Homo sapiens: one gene and its partners. The protein of the gene in region 4 purifies or fractionates together with the protein of the main gene of each other region. This does not show direct contact. Each region holds a gene or a part of one and is shown on either strand. Other genes may lie near its edges.

Region 1 (3,500 bases), on a different chromosome or scaffold from region 4:
AGCTTTTGGCCTCCGAGGGCCGCAGGAGGAAAGGACCCGAGCCCCGGGATTGCTAGGGAATGGAACGAGGGAGAACCCGTCTCCGAGTATGCTGGAGAAAGGCAGGGGAGATGTGACAATTACCACCAACAGTTTAAACAAACAAATTAATTCAGGGCAATCTTCGGCCTGCCGAGCTTGACAACTTGTCAATACACAAGTTCAACAGGTTGGACGCTCCCTCCGGCTTCCTGCGCCGCAGAGGAAGGGGCTCTCTCTCCTCCTGGAGCTGCCACCCGGCCCGGGCCGCCTCACAGCAAAACCCACTCGCACCCTGTTCCCAGGCCCCACGGTGTCCTCCAGCCCATTACCCTCGCCCCCTGCCTGGGCCTGGGGCGCCCTCGACAGGCTGCAGCGGGGGACGCAGCTCGGACCGTGCTCCAGGCCCAGGAAGCACTCTGACGTCCTGGTTCTTGCTGTTGCGCGCTTAAGAGCCTTGGGAGAGCTGGGTGTCCGAGGCACCCACGGGCGTTACCCTGCCTCTCCAGCCCCCTTTCCCTCTTTTCTGTAGAACAGAGAGAAGGCCCTGGACTCACATCGGCCCAATGGCCGTACTGATTTTGGCATCTTGGAGAATTTGCACACGGGCTGGAAATTCCGCGTTTTCGCGTCTCTGCCCTCCCTTTTTCAACACACCGCGAACTTCCAGCCTGTATGATCTCCTCCCCGTGAGACTATCCAGATTTTAAGATCCTGGGGCAGGCTAGCAGGCTTAAGGGTGGCCACGAAGGGCTGCAAAGAGGGATTAGGACCGGAGGCAGAAAATGCGCGCCGGTCCCCTGGAGAGTGGGGTCCCCCCAAGCGCTGCCTGTGTGGAGATGACTGTGGGGCGCAAGTTCCTGATGTGGGCATGGGTCTTGCCCTGGGGAATTCTAGGGGTCGCCAGCGGCTCCTGCTGAAAGACGGGAAGGATACGACTGAAAGCCCGAGGCCAATTCCCAGCATCTGGAAAGAAGCGCTCCGGGGTTGATTTACATGCATAGGAGTGCCATGTATTTTCTGTACATATAATTTACTTACTACTCAATCAACATTGGAATAAAGGGATGCACTGATTACCGTCTTTGTTCATGTTGACTTCCAAACACTTCTTCAGCCGACACGCCCTGCACTGGTTTCTGTGCGTCTTGTCCACCGGACAGCCTCCCTGGAACAGAGAGCAGGAGGTCAGCGGTCCCCAGGGCCTTTAGGCTGGAGACCCGGAGCCGGCACCCGGGCGGGGAAACGGTGTGGAGGCGCGACCTTGCCCGGCCGCAGGCCCTGGAGCCCCGAGCCTGGGCCTGCAAAACGCGAGGGCCTTGGGCATGAGCAGGGCCAGATCGAGAAGGGGCTGGGACGTCCCAGGCTACTTCAAGAGGGCCAGTCCCGGACCCCAAGAAAGCGGACAAGGGGGAAACGTCCTTCTCCAAGCAGGTGAAGCTTAGAGAGCCGGGTTTGGCAGACCCCGCAGGCCTGCGGGGCTCTCGCTAGGGGAACTTCCGCCAGTCGCGGAGTGGTGGAACAGGGACGAGACTTCAGGACCGAAGACAGCGACTTGGCCCCAGAGAAAGAGGCCACTAAGTTCCTTCCGTTAAGAGCTGGCTTTTGGGTCAGGATTCACACCATACCGCCCTCCCACCAACGATTCTTTCTGCTTTCAGTACTTGAGTCTACCTCTTTCTGCCACTTTCTGGGAGAGCCCGTTTATCTATCAGATAAATCTCTCCCATTTATTCTTCACTCTCCTATTACCTCACTTTTGCTTTTGTATGAAGCCAACCTTATTATCAGCAAGTTGAGAGTTGCCTTAAAGACTAGCCTCGGCCCAGGTGCATAGAAACACAGCCCTTCCTGGAAGGTGAGAGTTTAGGAGGGCAAGGCCTAGAGAAGATGAGGGTGAAAAAGGAAGAGCTCAAGTCTTGAGCAAAATATAGAAATGCTCACCATGTAAACAGGACCAGGAAGGTAATGTGATGGACTGTCAGACTAAATGATAATATGGGCTCAGACTGTTAGCATAGTAACTGAAAAAATAAAGGTAGTCACTTCTTTAGAAATATTTATCTGAGATGCATGAGAAATTAGATGTTTACCTAATGCAATTTTCTGTAAAAACATTAGCCATTGAAAGAGGAAATCTACAGATAAAGTTTCCTTTGGAATTTATTCAGTGTTAGATGTCATTACCGAGGGGACATATGCATAGATACATAAAGAGTCATGTGCATGAGTTTTATACACAGAAAATATTTAAGACATTGTGTGCTCTCCTATATTTATAGAAGTTGCTACTGTTAGATTTGTAGTGAGAAGAAAGATAATAAATGTATTTTTATTTTGCTTCATAATCTCAAAAATTCATATACTCTGGAGTTGGAGTAAGTATGTTTTTCTTCCCCCTGAAGCCCTTTAGGGGAAAATTACACATTCGAATGCAGTTTTATGAGTTCACACTTCTCCAATTTAAATTATGATGATTTATTTAAAATAAAGGTGGGACAGATGTTCATATCCATTTCTAAATGTCCTCATTACTGTTAATAATAAATTGGAATATAATTTAATCCTAGAATAAGAGAGAAAGGAGATAATTTTTGGGTCCAAAGTGAATTATTTAGGGCATCTTTGCTGGCCAATGTAATAGTTCATTGTAAACAGGTTTTTTAAAACTTGTTATTAAATGTAATTATATATCTATCCTCAGATGGTATCTTTCCAGTATTCTTATAAGTATGCAAATGCAAAATGGAAACCTTCATAAGTTCTTAAGTGTGTCTTCAAATCAGATCAAATGTATATAAATATCTAGCGCCAGAGAGAAGGATAAACGCCTCAGCTCTGATCATTTACTCTCCTTGCAAGAAGAACACCAGGCCTGATGAGTCTATTATCAGTCCTTTACAAGCACTTGGACTGATATCAATATGCTTGAATTGATAGCCATCCCCTTCTAAAAGATCAAGCACAACATCAGAGATCTTGATTTTCCAATTCTGTTCACTGCATAAAAGCAAAAGACAATCTAAGTAGAAGTTGGTTCAAATCTGACAACCCGCAGTAATCGCACAATCCTGTGGAGTTATTGGGATACAGTCCTATGCGTGTAAAATGTGATGTGTCCATATGGTGAAGCTAGAAACTGATACAGTAGCCAATTAAACAGGTAACAGGGCTAGAGAGCTCAAAATTTATCTCAATGCAAATATCTTCTGTTTTTGTGGTTAATCCAAAACTATTAGAAAACAATATGAGCAGACATGACTTCAGAAAAAGATGTCAGAACAATTCACTAGCAGCAGACAATATATGCATGTGTATACATGTACCCTATATATATCAATTAGTGAAAAGTGTTTTACTATTTTGTTACCAAAGGATGACTGCTGACTAATGCACCCTCAGGGATCTTTCCACAAGTGAAATGGAGGACTCTGTACTGAGGGTCTGAGTCGCTGATAAGGAGAGGGCAAAGTGTAGGACCA
Region 2 (3,500 bases), on a different chromosome or scaffold from region 4:
AATTGTAAAGGAAGAAGTCAAACTATCCTTGTTTGCAGATGATATGATGATCTTATATTTAGAAAAACCTAGACTCCACCAAAAAACTATTAGAACTGATGAATTCAGTAAAGTTTCAGGATACAAAATCAACATACAACAATTAGTAGCATTTCTATATGCCAACAGTGAACAATCTGAAAAAGAAATAAATAAAGTAATCTCACTTACAATAGCCACAGATAAAATTAAATACCCAGGAGTTAACCAAAGTGAAAGATCTCTATAATGAAAACTACAGGCTGGGCGCAGTGGCTCAGGCCTGTAATCCCAGCACTTTGGGAGGCCGAGACAGGTGGATCACTTGAGGCCAGGAGTTTGAGACCAGCCTGGCCAATATGGTGAAACCTCATCTCTACTAAAAATACAAAAATTAGCCAGGTGGTGGTGGCGCATACCTGTAATCCCAGGTACCTGGGAGGCTGAGGCATGAGAATTACTTGAACCTGGGAGGCAGACATTGCAGTGAGCCGAGATTATGCAACTGCACTCCAGCCTGGGCAATAGAATGAGACTCTGTCTCAAAAGAACAAACAAAAAAAACAAAAAACTATAAAACACTGATGAAAGAAATTGAAGAGGACACCAAAAATGGAAACATATTCCACGTTCATGGATTGGAAGAATCAATATTGTTAAAATGTCCATACTACCCAAAGCAATCTATAGATTCAATGCAATCCCTATCAAAAAACCAATGGCATTCTTCACAGAAATAGAAAAAACAATCTGAAAATGTATATGGAATCATAAAAGATTCAGAATAGCCAAAGTTATTCTGAGCAAAAATAACAAAATTAGAGAAATCACATTACCTGACTTCAAATTACAATGCTACAGAGCTATAGTAACCAAAACAGCATGGTACTGGCAAAAAAAAAAAAAAAAGACACATAGACCAGTGCAACAGAATAGAGAATCCAGAAACAAATCCACACAACTACAGCGAACTCATTTTTGACAAAGGCACCAAGAATATACATTGGGGAAAAGACAGTCCCTTCAATAAATGGTGCCGGGAAAACTGGATATCCATATGTAGAAGAATAAAACTAGACCCCTCTCTCTCACCATATACAAAAATATTTTTTAAAAAAATTTTTTTTTATTTTTTTTATTTTTTTTTAAATTTTTTTAAATATAATTAAAATGGATTAAAGCCTTAAATCTAAGACCTTGAACTATGAAACTACTACAAGAAAATATTGGGGAAACTCTCCAGGACATCAGTCTGGGCAAAAATTTCTTGAGTAATACCCCACAAGCACAGGCAACTAAAGCAAAAATGGACAAATGGGATCTCATCAAGTTAAAAAGTTTCTGCACTGCAAAGGAAACAATCAACAAAGTGAAGAAACAAGCCACAGAATGGGAGAAAATATTTGTAAACTACTCATCTGACAAGGGATTAATAACCAGAATATACAAAGAGCTCAAACAACTCTATAGGAAAAACCTTAATCTGATTTAAAACTGGGCAAAATATTTGAATAGACATTTTTCAAAAGAAGACATACAAATGGCAAACAGGCATATGAAAAGGTCCTCAACATCACTGATCATCAGAGAAATGCAAATCAAAACTACAATGTATCATCTCACCCCAGTTAAAATGGCTTATAGCAAAAAGGCAATAACAAATGCTGGGAAGCATGTGGAGAAAAGGGAACCCTTGTACACTGTTGGTGGGAATGTAAATTAGTATAACCACTATGGAGAAAAGTCTGGAGGTTCCTCAAAAAACTAAAAATAGAGCTACCATATGATCCAGCAATCCCACTGCTGGGTATATACCTAAAAAAAGGAAATCAGTATATTGAAGAGACATCTGCACTCCCATGTTTGCTGCAGCTCGGTTCACAATAGTTAAAACTTGGAAGCCACCTAAGTGTCCATCAACAGATGAATGGAAAAAAAAAAAAAACAACAGATGAATGGATAAAGAAAATGTACACACACACACAATGGAGTACTATTCAGCCAGAAAAAAAGAATGAGATTCTGTCATTTGAATGGATGATACATGGATAAAGAAAATGGATAAAGAAAATGTGGTACTTACATACAATGGAGTACTATTCAGCCATAAAAAAGAATGAGATTCTGTCATTTGCAATAAGATATATGGAACATGGAGGTCATTATGTTAAGCAAAATAAGCCAGGCACAGAAAGACAAATATTGCATGTTTTCACTTATCTGTGGGATCTAAAAATCAAAACAATTGAACTCATGGAGCCAGAGAACAGAAGGGTGGTTACCAGAGGCTGAGAAGGGTAGTGTGGGGATGGGGGGTGGGAGGATGGTTAATGATTAAAAAAAAAAAATAGAATGAATAAAACCTGGTATTTGATAGAACGGGGGACTACGGTCAATAATAATTGTACATTTAAAAATAACTAAAAGAGTATAATTGGATTGTTTCTAATACAAAGGATAAATGCTTAAGGGAAGGAATACTCCATTTTCCATGATGTGGTTATTACGCATTGCATAAGTGTAGCAAAATATTTCATGTACTGCATAAATATATACACCTGGCTGGGCGAGGTGGCTCACACCTGTAATCCCAGCACTTTGGGAGGCCGAGGCAGGCGGATCATCTGAGGTCGAGAGTTTGAGACCAGCCTGACCAACATGGAGAAACCCTGTCTCTACTAAAAATACAAAATTAGCTGGGCGTGGTGGCGCATGCCTATAGACCCAGCTACTCAGGAGGCTGAGGCAGGAGAATCGCTTAAACCCGAGGGGGCGGAGGTTGCAATGAGCCAAGATCGCGCCATTGCACTCCAGCCCAGGTGACACAGCAAGACTCCATCTGGAAAAAAAAAAAAAAATGCATACACACACACACACACACACACACACACACACACCCCTTGTACCCACAAAAAACGAAAAACAAAGATCATCCTACTTTCACCATTTTAGCTCTAATTAGTCTCTTGAGAAACTTTGTTAGTACGATATTCTCAATAATTGTTCTATTAAAGGTTCTTTTTCCAGCTGGGTGTGGCAGCTCATGCCTGTAATCCCAGCACTTTGGGAGGCCAAGGCAGGTGGATCACTTGAGGTCAGGAGTTCAAGACCAGCCTGGCCAACATGGTGAAATCCTGTCTCTACTAAAAAAATTAGCCGGGCATGGTGGCACACAACTGTAGTCCCAGCTACTTGGGAGCTGAGGCAGGAAAATCACTTTAATCCAGGAGGTGGAGGTTACGGTGAGCCAAGATTGTGCCACTGCACTCCAGCCTGGGCAACAGAGCAAGAGTCTGTCTCAAAAAAAAAAAAAAAAAAAAAAAAAGGTTATTTTCCATAGAAAAAAAAAACACTAGAAGAAAATGAAGGGAAAACTCTCCTGCACATTGGTCTCGGCAAAGATTTTATGCCTAAGACCTCAAAAGTATAGGCAATAAAAATAAACAAATGGGACTTAAACTAAAAAGTGTCTGCATAGCCAA
Region 3 (2,649 bases), on a different chromosome or scaffold from region 4:
TTAGTCACCATTGCCTGCAGAAGGCTCAGAGATAGGCCTGTTCATTGTGAAAAAGAGGACTAGCGAATGTCAAGCTTCAAGACAAGCCAGCACTCATCCGAGGCTCTCTCCTTGATGGGAAGCCATGAAGGACAAGGCTTCACTGTATGAACCCATCCGAGGAGAGGCCTGGTGCACACAGGCACCCTGCTCCCGTCAACACCCACAGGATTCTGTGATCCTCACACAGGTGCAACCACACTTAAATTCACTTGTGCACACTCGATGCACTTTTACTGAGGGACTTCTGAGTGGGTCTCAAAAGACAATGCTGGCGGGGTGTGATGGCTTATGCCTGCAATCCCAGCACTTTGGGAGGCTGAAGCGGGCAAATAACTTGAGGTCAGGAGTTCAAGACCAGCCTGGCTAACATGGCGAAACCCTGTCTCTACTAAAAATATAAAACATGAGCCAGGCATGGTGCTGTGTGCCTGTAATCCCAGTTACTCGGGAGGCTGAGGCAGGAGAATCCCTTGAACCCAAGAGGTGGAGGTTGCAGTGAGCCGAGATCACGCCACTGCACTCCAGCGTGGGTGAAAGAGCGAGACCCCACCTCAAAAAAAAAAAAAAAGCCAGTGTTGAGCACCCCCAATATTACTCCAGGACTCAAGTCAATCCACATTCTCACTGCTTAGGGCCCATGCTCTTAGACCACCACCAAGACCTTGTCTTGTCCTGCACCGAGCAACCTCCGTGTCACCCTGCTCCACCTGCTCCATGAAGCCGCACCCTCCAGAGAGGACCCTTCCCCTTTCCACCCTTCGCGGACCACTCAATGAGCTACCCTGCACCTGACCCCTTCTGTCCAAGTCATCACAGTATTCCCAGAGCTGGAACAGTCAATGCCTGGCACATCGTGGGCACTCAACATGTTGAATCAATGGTTACAAATACATGAATGTACTTGTTGAATAAATGGTTATAAATAAATGAATGAATGATCCCCCCCCTTCCCATACTCCATCTGTCTTCCTGAGCTCCCTGGCTCCAACACAGGTCCCTTGTTCTCCTGGCTTCTGACACACCCCAGTATCTTAGCCCTGCCTCTGGCCCTCTAAACATGCCATCCCACACCCAGCCTCAAAGCTCCAGGCCTTAGGACTTAACTTTTCCAAGCAGGGAAAGTTACAGACCCATTCCCAAGTAGGTTCAAGTCACCAGGCCCGGTGCCACTTCATCAGGCCCAGCCACAACACCAAAGCCCCAGAATGCAGAGTGCAATGTCTGCCTCAGTCCTGGCTCCCTTCTCCTCCCCACTCCCATCCACTCCCAGCTTCCAGGACTCAGGGTCAGCCCTGTTCCTGGACCTCTTCGGAAACCCTCCACGGCCACGTCCCTAGACTGGCTCCCTTGGTCACTGAACCGACCCCAGGCTTCAGGCCCATCTTCACCCAAGTCACGGCCCCAGTACACAGCAAAGTAGCCATGCCCTTGTTTCTCAACCCTACCCACCGGTGCCTCCTTTTTGCAAGGCTGACCCTTTTGGGGTCGTAAACCCAAAGGCTCCAGGTCCCAGCCAATGCCTTGGGAGGCTCAGCCCCTTCTCCTGGTCACCGCAGCCCTTTGGTACCCTCAAGTCCAGTCCCTTTCCTGGTCCCACCCTAGACAAGCCAAGTCTCACTCAGCCCCCCTAAGGTTCCAAGTGTCCTCAGCGCTTCTGGGGCACTTGGTTTCCAGCCCAAGTAACCTAGTCTAGGCCTGAGTCCCAGCCCATCTTTTACAGGACGGCTCCTCCTGTAGCCACATCCCTCCAGTAGGCCCGCCCCAGCACTGGGCTCCACCCCCAAGGTGCCAGGCTGTTTCCGGGTCCACCCCCCTCTCATGGCTCCGCCCACTTCTCCAGCCCCACCCCACAACCCACCCGCCCATGGGGTAGGCGGGCCCCAGGCACCTCCAGCTGAGATGTGGCTCCAGGGGCTGGCCGGGTACATGAAGGCGGCGTTCTGGATCTGGTCATTGATGTCCTCATCCTCGTTGAAAGGGAAGGTGCCGCTGAGGCTGACGTACATGATCACGCCCACTGACCACATGTCCAGCGAGCGGTTGTAGCCCTGGTTGAGCAGCACCTCGGGTGCCAGGTAGGCCGGCGTGCCCACCACTGAGCGGCGGAACGACTTCTCGCCGATGATGCGAGCAAAGCCAAAGTCACACAGCTTCACCTGCAGAGGGCAAGGGATGGAGGCTCCACCAGGTGATGGAGCCGCACCCACCCCAGCATCCCCACCACACCACCCTCCATGGTATTCCAGAGAAAGCTGGATGCTGGTTTGAATCCAGGCTCCTTGGCTCACTAGCTGAGCAACCCTGGGCAGGTGACTTCCCCCCTCTGTGCCTCAGTTTCCCCATCTATAGGAAGAAGAGCAGAAGAGCACCTATCTCAGAGGACTGCCATGATGGTTAGTGAATTAAACCATCCAAAGCCCACAGGACAATATTTGGCATTCAGTTGGTGCACAATAAATGCTAGCTGCTGCTATACCTCTGCCACCTCCAATGGGTCGCTGTTTCCTCTTTTGAATAATGCAGATTTTTTTTAATAGCCTCAAAATATACATGATTGGGGCGTGGTGGCTCATGCCTGCAATCTCAGCACTTTGGGAGGCCAAGGAA
Region 4 (3,500 bases):
TCACGCAACAACACCTTTGTTCACAGAAATGGACATCCTCGTTCTTACTACTCGAGGTGGCCATAAAGTACTCATTGTGTTCCTGGTATACAGTCTGCTCCTAATTGTAGGGGGTGGGAGGAAATATCGGCTACTAGCAATGGCGGCAGCGTCACTACCGTTCAAGGTAGGAAATCCCCTTCGTTGCTTGAAACTGCAACGTGAGGGCCAAGATGGAACAGGAGCTAAATGTCTTTCATAGTTGAGGAGGGAGCCCTGTTGGAATGTGACGTTAGTCATCCGGCAGGAGCCCCAGCGCCCTTCCTTCTGCACCCACACCCAGCACCCGAGGATGAGGACGACTGGGGTGCTTGAAGGTGGGGCTGGGGGAGGAGACTTCCTGAAGGCTGACCCTGGTCCTAGCTCTACCCGCCCCTGCCCAGCCCCACCAGCTCACTGCCTACCCAGTCCACGATGAGGACCTTGCCCACGTTCAACTTCTGCTGTAGGAGTTTTGCGGTGATGGCTACAGAGTTGAAGAAGCAGAATCCCCTGAGGAGGGGAGAAAAGGGCAGGAGGTCAGCCTCAGCATGACGTTTGCAAGAGACAGGAAGGGGCGAGGGCAGAGAATCTAGGGCACTCACATGGCTGTGGATTCCTCGGCGTGGTGTCCTGGGGGCCGGATGATGGCAAATCCATTCTGAAGAGGTGCAGGCAGAGGTGAGGGGCAAGATCCAGGCAGGAAGGCCGTGGAGGGGGTAGCACAGGACAGAAGCACAAGCCAGGCAGGGAAGTGAACACAAACCAGAAAAGCAGATCCATATGTTTAATGCACAATTTTGTTGGGGTTTCTTTGTTTTTTTATGGGTTTTTTTGGAGACAGAGTCTTGCTTTGTCACCCAGGCTGGAGTGCAGTGGCGCGATCATGGCTCACTACAACCTTGGCCTCCCAGGCTCAGACAATCCTTCCACCTCAGTCTCCTGAATAGCTAGGACTACAAGCACACGCCACCACACCTGGTTAATTTTTTGTAGAGACAGCGTTTTACTATGTTGCCCAGGCTGGTCTCGAACTCCTGGGCTCAAGCTATCTGCCCACCTCGGCCTCCCAAAGTGTTGAGATTACAGGTATGAGCCACTGTGCCCAGCCTCAACGGACCATTTTGAATGCCAACCATGAGGCTTGAGCAGGCAGACACTATTTCTGCCTCGAGACACCCACGAGAGCACTGGGCATTAGTGTCTTTTTGTTGGTCCCTCATAACCTGAATTCCCAGCTGGCAACTCCTTCCCACCCTGGTGCCTGAGAGTTGAGCTTGCAAAGGACAGTGCCTCACTGAAAGGATCCCAAGGCTGCCCCTGTCCTCTGCCTCTGAGGAGCAGGGCCATGCCAAGGGGCACCGAGGTCACAAGCACACGCTCACCTTGAGCTCTCCTGCAGCCACCTTGAAGGCCAGCTCCAGCAGGCAGCCCACTGCCATGCGCACAGCACTGGAGGAGTGCATCTCATTCCACACGGTGTCACTGTCCACCTGCAGGGCAGGAGAGCAGGTTTCAGTGTGCCCCCTGCAGGGCAAGAACAGGGGAGGGCACCTGGACAGTGGGCCAGCGGCTGTGGTAGGCAGGGAAGAGACAGACCTAGGAGAGCCGCCCGCCCACCCCCACTGCTGTACGCCCTACTCACCCCGATGCCCCCACAAGGCAGCACAGCATACATCTTCTGGCTGATGGGGCCTGCATGGAAGAGGAATAGAGCTACTCTAGAAGTGGCCTCGGGCGGATCACCTGAGGTCAGGAGTTCGAGACCAGCCTGGACAACATGATGAAACCCCATCTCTACTAAAAATACAAAACTTAGCTGGGCGTGGTGGCACACACCTGTAAACCCAGCTACTCAATAGGCTCAGGCAAGAGAGTTGCTTGAGCCTGGGGAGACAGAGGTCGCAGTGAGCTGAGATCGCACCACTGTACTCCAGCCTGGCCAACAGAGCAAGACTGTCTCAAAAAAAAAAAAGGCACCTCAACTGCCACAGGGCTACAGGCTTAGCCACCAAAAATGAGGGCTCAGACCCAAGTACAAGACAGGCCTCTGCAGCCCACACCAGTTGGAAGCTGTCAGTCCTCTGTCCTTGGGGACGTCTTACCTCTGGGGGCAGGTGGCAGGGAGAGAGGAGCATGATAAGCCGTGGAGGAGGGGAACAAAGCAGTCCCCCCAACCGAGCACTTCCATCCTCCTGCACCGCGCCCCACAGCATGCTCTATTTTAGTGGCGCCCTCTGGAGGTGTGTGACGTGATAATTGTGCCACCTCTGCCGCAGCAATGCCCTATGCCCGTGGGGACAACCCTCCTAGCCTGGTCAGGCAGTCTTCCTGAGAGCCCCCATCCCACCCTGACACTGAACATGCCTGCCCGCCCACCCATGTGCCAGCTCACCGAGCAACTTCTTGCTGTCTAGCTTCTGCCGGTTGAGGGGACTGGTCCCATAGAGCAGGGTGTGGTATTCAGAGTGCACTGTCTGGATCTCATCTAGCGTGGCTTTGCGACCTCGGATCCGCTGCCAGGAGGATCAGTAAGAGGGGTCACACAAAGGCACAGCTCTCTCAGAGCCTCTCTGCCCCATAGCCAGGGCACACAGAGCCACTTCCTGGCCTCAGGAGATCCAAATATTTTCAGAAAGTAGATCCTGGCTCTGTCATGACCTTACTCCCGGATCCCCCCCACTCAGCTGGGGACCATGGGGGAAAACAGGCTGCAAGGGATGGAACGGGGTGGTGGGAGAACTGGCCCCGAAGTCTGGGGCTGAAGAGAGGATGAGGAAGAAGCATGAAGAGAGGCTTATCTAACAGGGAAACAAAGGCTGGATTTAAGTTGAGAGCCAGAAGAAGGAGGGGCTCCCTTACCTCGCACTTGCTAAGCAGGCCTGTCTCCTGCAGCCGGGACCAGATGCTCTGGATCCGGCCAGCATGCTCAGGGTGCACGTGTGTGTTCCCGCACATGCACTGGTGCTTTAGCATGAACGTGTCGTAGACCACACCTGGGCCACAGACCTATGTGTCAGCCAGCACTGCTCTGGGCCCAGGATCCCAGCCTGGCTACCATGATCCTCAGCAGGGCTCATGGAGCTGTCTCCAACCCCCAGGTCCAAACACCTCCCCATGGCCACTGCAGCCACCCTGCCACAAACCTGCCCCCTCTCCTCTCCAGCTTTTTTTTTTTTTTCTTTGAAACAGGGTCTCACTCTGTCACCCAGGCTGGAGTGGAGTGTGTAGTGGTGCTATCATGGCTCACTGCAGCCTCAACCACTGCCCCCACCACCCTGGGCTCAAGCGATCCTCCCACCTCAGCGTTCTGAGTAGCTGGGACTATAGGCACTACCACACCTAGCTTTTCTTTTGTTTTTTTTTGAGACAGAGTCTCGCTCTGTCGGCCAGGTCCAGTGGCACGATCTCGGCTCACTGCAACCTCTGCCTCCTGGGCTCAAGCAATTCTCCTGCCTCAGCCTCCCGAGTAGCTGGGATTA
Region 5 (3,500 bases), on a different chromosome or scaffold from region 4:
TTTTTAAAAGCTACTAACATCATTGGTGTTATGGATTCTCAATTTTTATTAATAACAGCATTATCTAATGCTGTCATATACTAAACACCTACTATATTCCCATCATGGAGCCACTCTGTCACAAAAACAGTAATTTGCAACAAAAAAATAAGGCAGAATCACATTTATTTTACCTGTTTCTTTCATTAAGGAGATGCTTTCTTCCTTTCGTTCGTCATACACTCTAGTACCAGCTACTTCTCTTAATAGCTTTAATCTCTGAGAATCTGGTGCTGTTGCCATCTGGTTGATCTAAAATTTTTAGAAAAATAATCATTACATAGCTGTAGCCTCCGTTTAAGAAGAAGAACTCCACGTTGAAAGGTTTTTAATACACATGAAGGTTGGGTATCCCTTATGCAAAATGGTTAGAAACCAGAAGTGTTACAGATTTTAGATTTTTTCAAGTTTTGGAATATTTGCATTTATACTTACCAGATGAGCAACCCAAATCCAAAAATTTGAAATCCAAAATGTTCCAACAAGCATTTCCTTTGAATGTCATGTCCACACTCGAAAGGTTTCAGATTGTAGAGCATTCTGTATTTCAGACTTTTGAATTTGGGACATGCCAAGTTTTAAACAGATTATGATTTGGCTAATGTCATTTGTATAGTACGCATGCCTACATATCTATGTCTCCTTTACTTAAATGAAATTTACCAAATAAAATCCAAATACAACTGTTACGGTCATAACTCTCCTTTATGAATAGGGCTAACAAGTGAAGGAGTATCTCACACCACCATCTTTTTCTTAGTCAATATGATAAGGTATAAAAGATGAGCTCCATTCTCAAAAAACAAAGTATTTTTATAAGGGAAAACCATCACTGACTACACTTTTTTTTAAAGCTACAATAATATATTAAAAGTCAATTCTTCCTCAGTTTCCATGGGGATTGGTTCTAGGACCCCCTGCAGGTACCAAAATCCAAGGATGCTCAAGTCCCTTATATAAAATGGCATAGTATTTGCATATAACCTATGCACATCCTTCCATATACTTTAATATCTAGATTAATTATAATAATACAATGTAAATGCTATGTAAATAGTTTTACTGTATTTTTAAATTTGTATTATTTCTTATTGTACTGTTTTAAAATTTTATTTATTTTAAATATTTTTGATCCATGGTTGGCTGAACTTGCAGATGTGGAACCTACAGATACAGAAGGCTAATGATATGACAAAAATGGTATGCTTTAAATATAGAGAGAATGGTACAACTTAAGTGCCATGCAACTTAATATATAACAAGTATCCCTAAATGTCAAAAATGATATCACTGCATTAAAAAATTGAAATTATCTCTACGAAAATAGGTCTATCAAAAGTATCTACATCAAAGAATCATCCTTCAGATCCTCATTATTGAACGCTCCAATTATACATATTGGTTCATGCAATTTCCTCACTTAAAAATTATTTTTCAAATGGCTACAACATATGTGCCACTGCTGGGCACTGGAAAAGAGCAAACAAAGCAGAAAAGGTCCCACCCTCATGGAGCTTACATTCTAATGGAAAAAGACAGAAAATAAGTACTATCCTAACAGTGTAAGTGTTATGAAGAAAAATAAAACAGATTAAGGAAATAAAGCACATAGGGTTGAGGGGACGGCAATGCTTTCAGATGAGGCAATCAAGGATGGCATACGGGCAGAAACTGAAATGAAGTAAAAGGGCCTAGATTGACAGCAGACGGATCTCAGAAAAGTGCTCTTTCAAATCAGCCTCCATTTAAAAAAATTTATCTCCCACAAATAGTTAAATCGGAAAAAAACGTGTTCTTCCAGTAACACATTTTCTAAAACTGAAACTCCATATTCTTCCTAATCACTTCTTCTAAATGCTAACTTTCCAATACATATCTAGAAAAAAAGGCCTACAGTATAAAATAAGTGAATATTCTTTGAGAATTTTCCCTAGTCCAAAAAAAAAGTGAAAGTATATGAGAAGAGAGCAGAACAATCAGCTAAAAAAGTTTGTAGTTTGGCTGCTGAAAAAATGTAAAAACATAATCCCTATTAGGGAAAATAACATGTGGCAAAATGGCAGATTTCTGGTAATGTTAGCTTTTCAGTATTTTAATTGTGATAAATAATTAGGTAACACAAAATATTAATTTTAGAAAGTTTTTCAAATGTGATTTTTATAGAATTCCTACAATATTCTTAATTATTGCAACATTCATAAGCCAATAATGTCTTCCCATACTTTCACCTCAGTAAGTAATACCAGTCACTAGGAAAACAAGATCCACTTAATATGCTGAAATACTTCCATCTCAACATGCAATGGACCTATTTGGTACTTTATGGCCATGTAAAAGAATATGGCCATTTTTGCTTCAGCTTAACCACTCAAATCAATAAACCAAATTCATCACTCAAGAATTACTCAGAAAACAAATTCTACTTAAAAAGGACATACAATTGTTTTACCTTTCCTTGTTTAACAATATAATAAGGATTGCTTCGAGAAAAACCAGCGCTTTCAAGGAGGTTCATCACATCATTTTTCCTGTTGACAAACAATGAAATTACTTTCCGATAAATAATTTTAAAGCACCATTAAGCAATGAGTAGAGTAGCCCCTTGGTTGATAGCATTAGGGAGGAAAGATCAGTAATTAAACCATCTGTATCATCCTCAGAACTTTCTGATTCTTATGTTTATCCTCTATATGTTGACTTGTTGAAGATGAAGCAAATATTCCTCATATATGAAGCAGGTAAAAGAATACTTTTTACTCTTTTGTAAGGAAATCATAAAATTGCGGGCTGGGCGCAGTGGCTCATGCCTCTAATCCCAGCACTTTGGGAGGCCAAGGCAGGCAGATCACAAGGTCAAGAGTTCGAGACCAGCCTGCCAACATGGTGAAACCCCGTCTCTACTAAGAATACAAAAAGTAGCCGGGTGTGGTGGTGACTGCCTGCAATCCCAGCTACTCAGAAGGCTGAGGCAGCAGAATAGCTTGAACCCGGGAGGTGGAGGTTGCAGTGAGCCGAGACTGCGCCACTGCACTCCAGCCTGGGCGACAGAGCAAGACTCCGTATTGAGAAAAAGAAAAATGCTGGCTGGGCGTGGTGGCTCATGTCTGTAATCCTAGCACTTTAGGAAGCCGAGGTGGATCATTTGAGGCCAAGAGTTCGAGACCAACCTGGCCAACACAGCAATACCCCATCTCTATTTAAGTACATATTCAGTTTTTTTAAAAAAAAGAAAAATGCTTACGTGACCATCTTCTTGTCTAAGAAATACTGATCCTTTTTGGCACCAATAACTCTTCGAAGTGAAACTTCCTCTTTATCGATCTAAGAAAAAATGTAAAAGCCCACAGTTAATTTAATAGTAAAGGAGAAAACTTTTTAAATAAGGTCATTTTAAAGTCCTTGCCCATAAGTATTTATTTTAAAATTTCAATTATCTCACTAAAAATAATACTACAAATACT
Region 6 (3,500 bases), on a different chromosome or scaffold from region 4:
TAGCTGGGAAATACTGAGTATTTCTAGAAGGCTCAAGGTTTAAAAAATAATTAAAGAGGTTGACTAAGAGGAAGAAACAGTGAGCTGACATGAATGGAGCAGGTGAGTCTGAGAGAGAACTGTTTGGGGTCTCTTTCTCTTAGAAATCAGTAGCAGAGGCCATGCTTGGTGGCTCACACCTGTAACCCCAGCACTTTGGGAGGCCGAGGCTGGCGGATCACTTGAGGCTAGAGTCTGAGACCAACCTGGCTAACATGGCAAAACCCATCTCCATTAAAAATAGCAAAATTAGCCAGGTATGTGGTGCACGTCTGTAGTCCCAGCTACTCGGGAGGCTGAGGCTTGAGAATCGCTTGAACCTGGGAAGTGGAGGTTGCAGTGAGCCAAGATCATGCCACTGCACTCCAGCCTGGGAGACAGAGCGAGACTCCCTCTCTCTCTCAAAAAAAAAAAAAAAAAAGAAAAAGAAAAAGAAACCAGCATCAGAAAATGTTTAGCCCTAGCCTAAAGGAAACATGATCACAAACTACAGGAAACTGAAGAGAAAACTGCCTATCCACCTCCCTCAAAAAAAGAGATTAGGAGCCTAAAAAAATTCTAAAAATACATGTAAAGCCACAGAGTCCAAATTGCAAAAATATTGCTCAAAAGACCATAAATGGGTTAAAAATAGGAAGCATGGGAGAAAAATAAATTTGTCAGCTAAAAATGTATAAAAGCTCTCTTTCCACAAATAACATTTCTAAAATAAATGTTTACTAAGCAGAGCCCCAAATACATGCCAAGCATAAAGGACAGAAAGCTATCTGCTCTTGCCTCCTGAACTCTGCACATCATGTTTCCTCCTCTACTGGAGTCAAAGACTCATCCACCCTTCAACAGATTGCTACCTATCCCTCACACCTAACGTTCGGTTAGGTCATATCTCAGCTTAGAGATCACTTCCTAGAGAAAATCCTTCCCTGACCTGGGTTAAAAGGGCTAGAGGATAAATTGGTGCTCCTCCACTAGGCTGGCGCAGAATTATTTCATTCACTCATACAACCGTACAGAGAAGGTATTACATACTGTGTATTCTTACATACCCTAAAAACACAGTAATGAAGATTACAGACTAGTTAGCCGCTCTCATAGAAATGGACATTAAGGCTGGGCGCAGTGGCTCACACCTGTAATCCCAGCACTTTGGGAGGCTGAGGCGGGTGGATCACCTGAGGTCGGGAGTTCAAGACCAGCCTGACCAACATGCAGAAACCCTGTCTCTACTAAAAATACAAAATTAGCTGGGCATGGTAGCACACGCCTGTAATCCTAGCTACTCGGGAGGCTGAGGCAGGCGAATCGCTTGAACCCAGGAGAGTGAGGCTGCAGTGAGCTGAGATTGTGCCATTGCACTCCAGCCTGGGCAACAAGAGTGAAACTCCATCTCAAAAAAAAAAAAAAAAAAAAAAAGGACATTAAACAACAATAATTACACAATTATACATCATTGTTGGGGGAAGGATAGTGTTGGAAACATACACCCAGATACACACATCCACTCTAGGATTTCTGATCCAGACTGAAAAGATCAGGGAGTTTCTCTGAAAAGTGCTTCCTACAACCCAATGTGCTAGGCTTTTGGGATGCAACAGTGAAAAACACTGAGACTATCTCTAAATTCAGAGCTGGCACCAGGACACTCAACTAATGTAGTGCCTGGTGGATGGATACACCAGCCTGTGGATGGATACAGCTGCCTGTGTCCTTGGCAGTACGTAAGAAGACACGATTTGTGCAGAGTCTACCACAGGCACCCACATTTCACCCCTACCTAGGTGAGCATGCAGTTAATAAACGTTGCATGATCTCTTCTTTGCCTTAAAGAAACTCAATCTAGGGAAGGAAAAAAGGGCTTTGCTACATTTTCTGTAATGAGAAGTTCCATATCAAATTAAGATTACTGTTGGCCAGGTGCAGTGGCCTCTAATCCCAGCACTTTGGGAGGCTGAGGCGGGCAGATATTTGAGGTCAGGAGTTTGAGACCAGCCTGGCCAATATGGCAAAACCCTGTCTCTACTAAAAATACAAAAATTAACCGGGCATGGTGGAGTGCACCTGTAATCCCAGTTACTCGGGAGGCTGAGGCAGGAGAATCGCTTGAACCCAGGAGGGAGAGGTGGCAGTGAGCTGAGATCAAGCCACTGCACTTCAGCCTGGGCAACAGAGCAAGGCTCCATCTCAAAAAAAAAAAAAAAAAAAAAAAAAAATTATTGTTAGTAGTAAACAAGATAATGTTTTTCATTTTGAAATATCTAAACTAACTTACTACTTGGTAAACATTATCTGGTTCATAGACTGTATAACCTGAAGTATAACTCAGAGTGCTCACCCTTACAATCTGAGATTGGATACCTGTAGTCTGCACACCAGGGAAACAGCCTACCTTTCATAATATATTCATTTTCTGAAGAGCCAGGAAGTGTGAGAGCTTTGAAAAGGTTTGTTAGCAGAATCTCAACAAACGGTGCGATTTCTGCAGCTGTAAAGCTATAGATGAAAAAACAGCTTTCAGTCACTACCAACTCTTGAGCTTGTCACTGCAGATTACCCTTGGCAACCACTATGTCACCCTTCTCAGCATAAAACTGAGCCATCTCCCACCACTGACAATTGATAGACAGTTTAGGAAAATAATTTTTTTACATGTGCTCATGTTAGGCTCCTAAGAAGGCACATCGAGAACCAAACACAACTGAACCAAAAAGCCAGCTAAACCCAACAACATCTGAAGTTGAAACAGTTGTCCCTGGTTTATATCTATTACCACTGAGAAAGAACTCAGAATCTCAGGGGACTCTGTCATTTATTTTGTTTTTGGAGGTGGAGCCAAGATTCAGAACTGTTTTCTGCATAAATTCTGGGCCTGAAGATAGGTACTGGCTTGACTCACCTCAAAGGATGTCCTTTCTACCCTTAATTGGCCACTGAGAGTATCTGTACTTCAAGTTCTTGATGAAGGAAAGAACCTAGAACTGTTTTCCATCTCTTACCCAAAGCTCATTTCAAGAAATAATACTGTTGAATAGTGGCCTGAAAGACATGCAGACCATCCATTCCTCTACATTTCATCCTGGTTCAGGCCAGAAGACCTATTTTCTTGGTCCCCAGTGAATTACTTTCATTCGGTTAGGTCATATCTCAGAAATAAGTGACCTTACGCAAATAGCCACATGAAAATAACTGTTACATGATTGTTGCTGAGAACACTACTACTACTATTGTACAGTATTCTCTGCTTTAACTTTTATCTCATAGACCCTGTGAAAATTTTAACTTCCCAAGTTTCCCTCTTTGCCCTGGCTGCTAAGAGACTCCAAATAAAATTTGGAGTTTCTTGGACTACTATATAGGATCCTTTGACACACATTTCTGTTTATTAACTTTATCTCAGTTACTTTCCTTGGCTCCAGTTTATTAAATTGTATTGTCATAATGCACCTATTTTAGTAAGCAGCCTC
Region 7 (3,500 bases), on a different chromosome or scaffold from region 4:
AATTGGAAACCGTTACAAATGGAATTGGAACAAATTTAAAGTTAAGATGGAAGAGAGAATATGTTGAGTTTTCAGAGGAAGTCGGGTACTGCTTCCTTTTCTTGTCTAGGTTTGTTCTTGTCCGATGGGATCAGAGAGATTTGAGATGGGGCATGATAGGCGGCGGGTTCAGGAGAAAGGGAAGCTTTAGAAATGAAGGTAGAAAAGATGCTTGCTTATTGGAACAGTATTTTCAACGTTGAGCTCTGGAATGTTGCAGCCAACTAATGGTTCTCATTTGGGACAGTTTTGTCCCCCACTTTTGAAGGGAGCATTTGCCAATGTCTGGAGACATTTCCCTTCCTGCAACTGTTAAATTAGCAAACAGGTTGAGCCAGCTGGGTGTGGACCTGCATTTTCCTCGTGGAGGCCCTCTTCCAAGTGTCAGTAGGAAAAGGGCTCCCAGAGTGTGGTCCTGCTGCGGGACCTTGGCCCCCACGTCCAAGTGAGCCCCAGAGGTGCCCCAAGCCCTGCCTGGTCATGGGGAATCTGGGCTCCCGCTGAACTTGGGCGCTGGGGACAGCTATGAGGGAAACCTGGTTTGCAGCTAGCTTGCCGTGCACTGACTGGAGCTTTGGGCAAATCAGTGAACTTCTCTAACATTAATTTTCTCATTGAGAGAGGAGGTGGGTAGGAGTATATATATATATATGTAATTATATATATAGGGGTCGGGTAGAGGGAGAGAGAGATTTCCCAGGCTCCTTGTATTAAAGGAGATAGAGTTATTATATTTCTCATTTAGTTTTTATTTATTTGTTTATTTTGAGACAGTGCAATTATTATAGCTAGCTGCAGCCTCAACCTTCTGGGCTTAAGCAATTCTCCTGCCTCAGCCTCCTAAGTAGCTGGGAGTACCAAATGCGCACTACCATACCTGGCAATTTTTTTATTTTTATTTTTAGTAGACACAGGCTCTCACTGTGTTGCCCAGGCTGCTCTCAAACTCCTGGGCTCCAGTGATCCTTCCTCCTTGACCTCCCCAAGTGTTGAGATTACAGGTGTGAGCCACTTTACTCAGTCGACCGACATAGAATTATTATAATGCTTGGAGCCTAACATGCCTTTTTTGTTTGTTTGTTTGTTTTTTCTGAGACGAAGTCTCTCTCACAGCCCAGGCTGGAGTGCAGTGGTGCGATCTCGGCTCACTCTGCCTCCCGGGTTCAAGCGATTCTCCTGCCTCGGCCTCCTGAGTAGCTGGGATTACAGGCATGCTCCACCACACCCGGCTGATTTTTGTATTTTTAGTAGAGGTGGGGTTTCACCATGTTGGCCAGGCTGGGCTCGAACTTCTGACCTCAGGCGACCCTCCCGCCTCGGCCTCCCAAAGTGCTGGGCTTATGGGCATGAGCCATCGCGCCCGGCTAGCCTAACATGCTTATAGTTTCCTGTTTTCTGAAGTTGGGAATTGGGTCTGGAAAGGTATCACCATCAGTCACGATGGTGTCTAGTAGTTTGCTTTGTTTTTTTCCTTATCTTTTCCCTCTTACATTTTAGGGCTGTATCTATATAATTTTATTATTTAAATTACCATATGGTAAGTTTGTCTCTTTGGGTGCATTATGAGTCTTGACACATGCATAGATTGGTGTGACCACCATCATCATCAGGAGAGAGAACAATCTCCTCAGCCCAGAGATGTTCATGGCTCTGTCTCCCACAGTTCCTCCACAGTCACCCCCCCCAGCCCCGAATCTGGGGCACCCAGCCATCTGCTCTGCTCTGGAAGTCTTGGGGATCCCATCTGAATGTAACACATGGTGGAATGCCTTAGGTGAATCCATCCGCTCTTCCAGTACCACCTTTGCCTCCTCTCTCTGATGACACATGAACTTCATGCCTTTGTGTGCTTTGGCCAACCGCTTTTCTTAGAACAGCACATTTTGCACTGTAGATGTTATCACAAGCAAGGAAAAAACAGCTTTGCTCCTTAATGTAAGAAACCACAGTGGAAAAACATCAGGTGTGTTGTTGAGGCTGCTAAAGCTTTGCTCCTTTTTAAAATTTTTTAAAAATTTTTCTGGATACGTAGGTGTATATATTTATGGGGTGCATTAGATATTTTGATATAGTCGTGCAGTGTATAATCACATCATGGAGAATGGGGGTATCCATTCCCTCAAGCACTTATTCTTTGTGTTACAAACAATCCAATTATACTCTTTTAGTTATTTGCTCTTTTTTCTTTTATTTTGAGACGGAGTCTCACTATGTCGCCCAGGGTAGAGTGCGGTGGCGCGATCTCCGCCCGCAAGTTCAAGCGATTCTCCTCCTCAGCCTCCGGAGAAGCTGGGACTAGAGGCATGTGCCACCACACCTGGCTAATTTTTTTGTATTTTTAGTAGAGATGGGTTTCACCATGTTGGTCAAGCTGGTCTCAAACTCCTGACCTCAGGTGATCCACCTGCTTAGCCTCCCAAAGTGCTGGGATTACAGGCGTAAGCCAGCACGCTCGGCCTATTTATTTCCTCTTTGTTCTATGCCAGTTAGTTCTTGATGCCTCATTGTTTCAGATGGGACATTTTCTAATGTCGTGTTTTTGTTTTTGTTTTTTTGAGACAGAATTTCATTGGTGTTTCCCAGGTTGGAGTGCAGTGGCATGATCTCTCCTCACTGCAACCTCCGCTTCCCGGGATCAAGCAATTCTCCTGCCTCAGCCTCCCGAGTAGCTGGGATTACAGGCATGCACCACCATGCCCGGCTAATTTTGTATTTTTAGTAGAGATGGCATTTCACCATGTTGGTCAGGCTGGTCTCGAACTCCTGACTTCAGATGATCCACTCGCCTCGGCCTCCCAAACTACTGGAATTACAGGTGTGAGCAACCATGCCCGACCTCTGATGTCCTTTTAGAGGATGTTACCCTCACCTTTATTGCACAGTCCTACCAAAAGGTACTTCATATGTGAAATGTATCAGAAGGTTATAGTCATGGCTTTAGTTTAAAAACAGGATACATGTTCATTAAGGACCTTTGCCGTTTTCCCAATGGGTTAATCACGTAAATATAAAATAGGCTAAAAATATCAAGTTGTTTTTGCCTTTGTTGTAGAAATAAAAAAATGAATTCCTACATCTGTGTTTCTATGGAGCTGCTAACCTGTGTTTTACTCTGGGCCATATGTCGCTTTCTGTGATCTCATGACGTGGCATGTTTTCTAATATAATCCTTGTCCTGGCATTTTGGTGACTTTTGTCCTGCCTGAGGTGGTCTACCTGGTTGTGTGAAGTCACAGAACCTGTGCATGTCCTACCGTGTAGAGTTAAAGGGCTGGATGAGTGGCCTCAAGCCTTTTCCTCCCTCCCAGGTGTGAAGATTTGGTTTGGAAGATGGACCCTGCTTCAAGGTCTGGGAGGCCATGTTTTTTTCAGACTGGTTAAGGATGACGGTTTTATGTTAACTAAACATTGGGATCAAGTGACAGTTGTTTATGTCCGGTGCCTAGAGTATCAGTTTTCCC

Evidence for each region.
Region 1: the proteins of HDAC5 (region 4) and NR2E1 purify together in Homo sapiens (affinity purification with western blotting; 2 studies listed by BioGRID). This does not show direct contact.
Region 2: the proteins of HDAC5 (region 4) and APPL1 purify together in Homo sapiens (affinity purification with mass spectrometry; one large-scale study listed by BioGRID and IntAct). This does not show direct contact.
Region 3: the proteins of HDAC5 (region 4) and PRKD2 purify together in Homo sapiens (affinity purification with western blotting; 2 studies listed by BioGRID, with this or other methods). This does not show direct contact.
Region 5: the proteins of HDAC5 (region 4) and SMC3 purify together in Homo sapiens (affinity purification with mass spectrometry, with the first as the bait; one study listed by BioGRID). This does not show direct contact.
Region 6: the proteins of HDAC5 (region 4) and CSE1L purify together in Homo sapiens (affinity purification with mass spectrometry, with the first as the bait; one study listed by BioGRID). This does not show direct contact.
Region 7: the proteins of HDAC5 (region 4) and TBL1X purify together in Homo sapiens (affinity purification with mass spectrometry; 3 studies listed by BioGRID and IntAct, with this or other methods). This does not show direct contact.

The regions. Positions count from the first base shown.
Region 1 is NC_000006.12:108,172,522-108,176,021, reverse strand, and holds part of NR2E1 (nuclear receptor subfamily 2 group E member 1), read right to left. Parts: intron 1,187-3,500; coding exon 1,099-1,186; intron 1-1,098. UniProt on the Homo sapiens protein: Orphan receptor that binds DNA as a monomer to hormone response elements (HRE) containing an extended core motif half-site sequence 5'-AAGGTCA-3' in which the 5' flanking nucleotides participate in determining receptor specificity.
Region 2 is NC_000003.12:57,262,229-57,265,728, reverse strand, and holds part of APPL1 (DCC-interacting protein 13-alpha), read right to left. Parts: intron 1-3,500. UniProt on the Homo sapiens protein: Multifunctional adapter protein that binds to various membrane receptors, nuclear factors and signaling proteins to regulate many processes, such as cell proliferation, immune response, endosomal trafficking and cell metabolism.
Region 3 is NC_000019.10:46,676,466-46,679,114, forward strand, and holds part of PRKD2 (serine/threonine-protein kinase D2), read right to left. Parts: intron 2,199-2,649; coding exon 1,931-2,198; intron 992-1,930; exon of another isoform or gene 675-991; intron 1-674.
Region 4 is NC_000017.11:44,082,142-44,085,641, forward strand, and holds part of HDAC5 (histone deacetylase 5), read right to left. Parts: intron 3,015-3,500; coding exon 2,881-3,014; intron 2,535-2,880; coding exon 2,414-2,534; intron 1,714-2,413; coding exon 1,664-1,713; intron 1,512-1,663; coding exon 1,404-1,511; intron 680-1,403; coding exon 624-679; intron 532-623; coding exon 444-531; intron 1-443. UniProt on the Homo sapiens protein: Responsible for the deacetylation of lysine residues on the N-terminal part of the core histones (H2A, H2B, H3 and H4).
Region 5 is NC_000010.11:110,577,695-110,581,194, reverse strand, and holds part of SMC3 (structural maintenance of chromosomes protein 3), read right to left. Parts: intron 3,361-3,500; coding exon 3,281-3,360; intron 2,568-3,280; coding exon 2,489-2,567; intron 292-2,488; coding exon 174-291; intron 1-173. UniProt on the Homo sapiens protein: Central component of cohesin, a complex required for chromosome cohesion during the cell cycle. The cohesin complex may form a large proteinaceous ring within which sister chromatids can be trapped.
Region 6 is NC_000020.11:49,084,312-49,087,811, reverse strand, and holds part of CSE1L (exportin-2), read right to left. Parts: intron 2,530-3,500; coding exon 2,426-2,529; intron 1-2,425. UniProt on the Homo sapiens protein: Export receptor for importin-alpha. Mediates importin-alpha re-export from the nucleus to the cytoplasm after import substrates (cargos) have been released into the nucleoplasm.
Region 7 is NC_000023.11:9,468,058-9,471,557, forward strand, and holds part of TBL1X (F-box-like/WD repeat-containing protein TBL1X), read left to right. Parts: intron 1-3,500. UniProt on the Homo sapiens protein: F-box-like protein involved in the recruitment of the ubiquitin/19S proteasome complex to nuclear receptor-regulated transcription units. Plays an essential role in transcription activation mediated by nuclear receptors.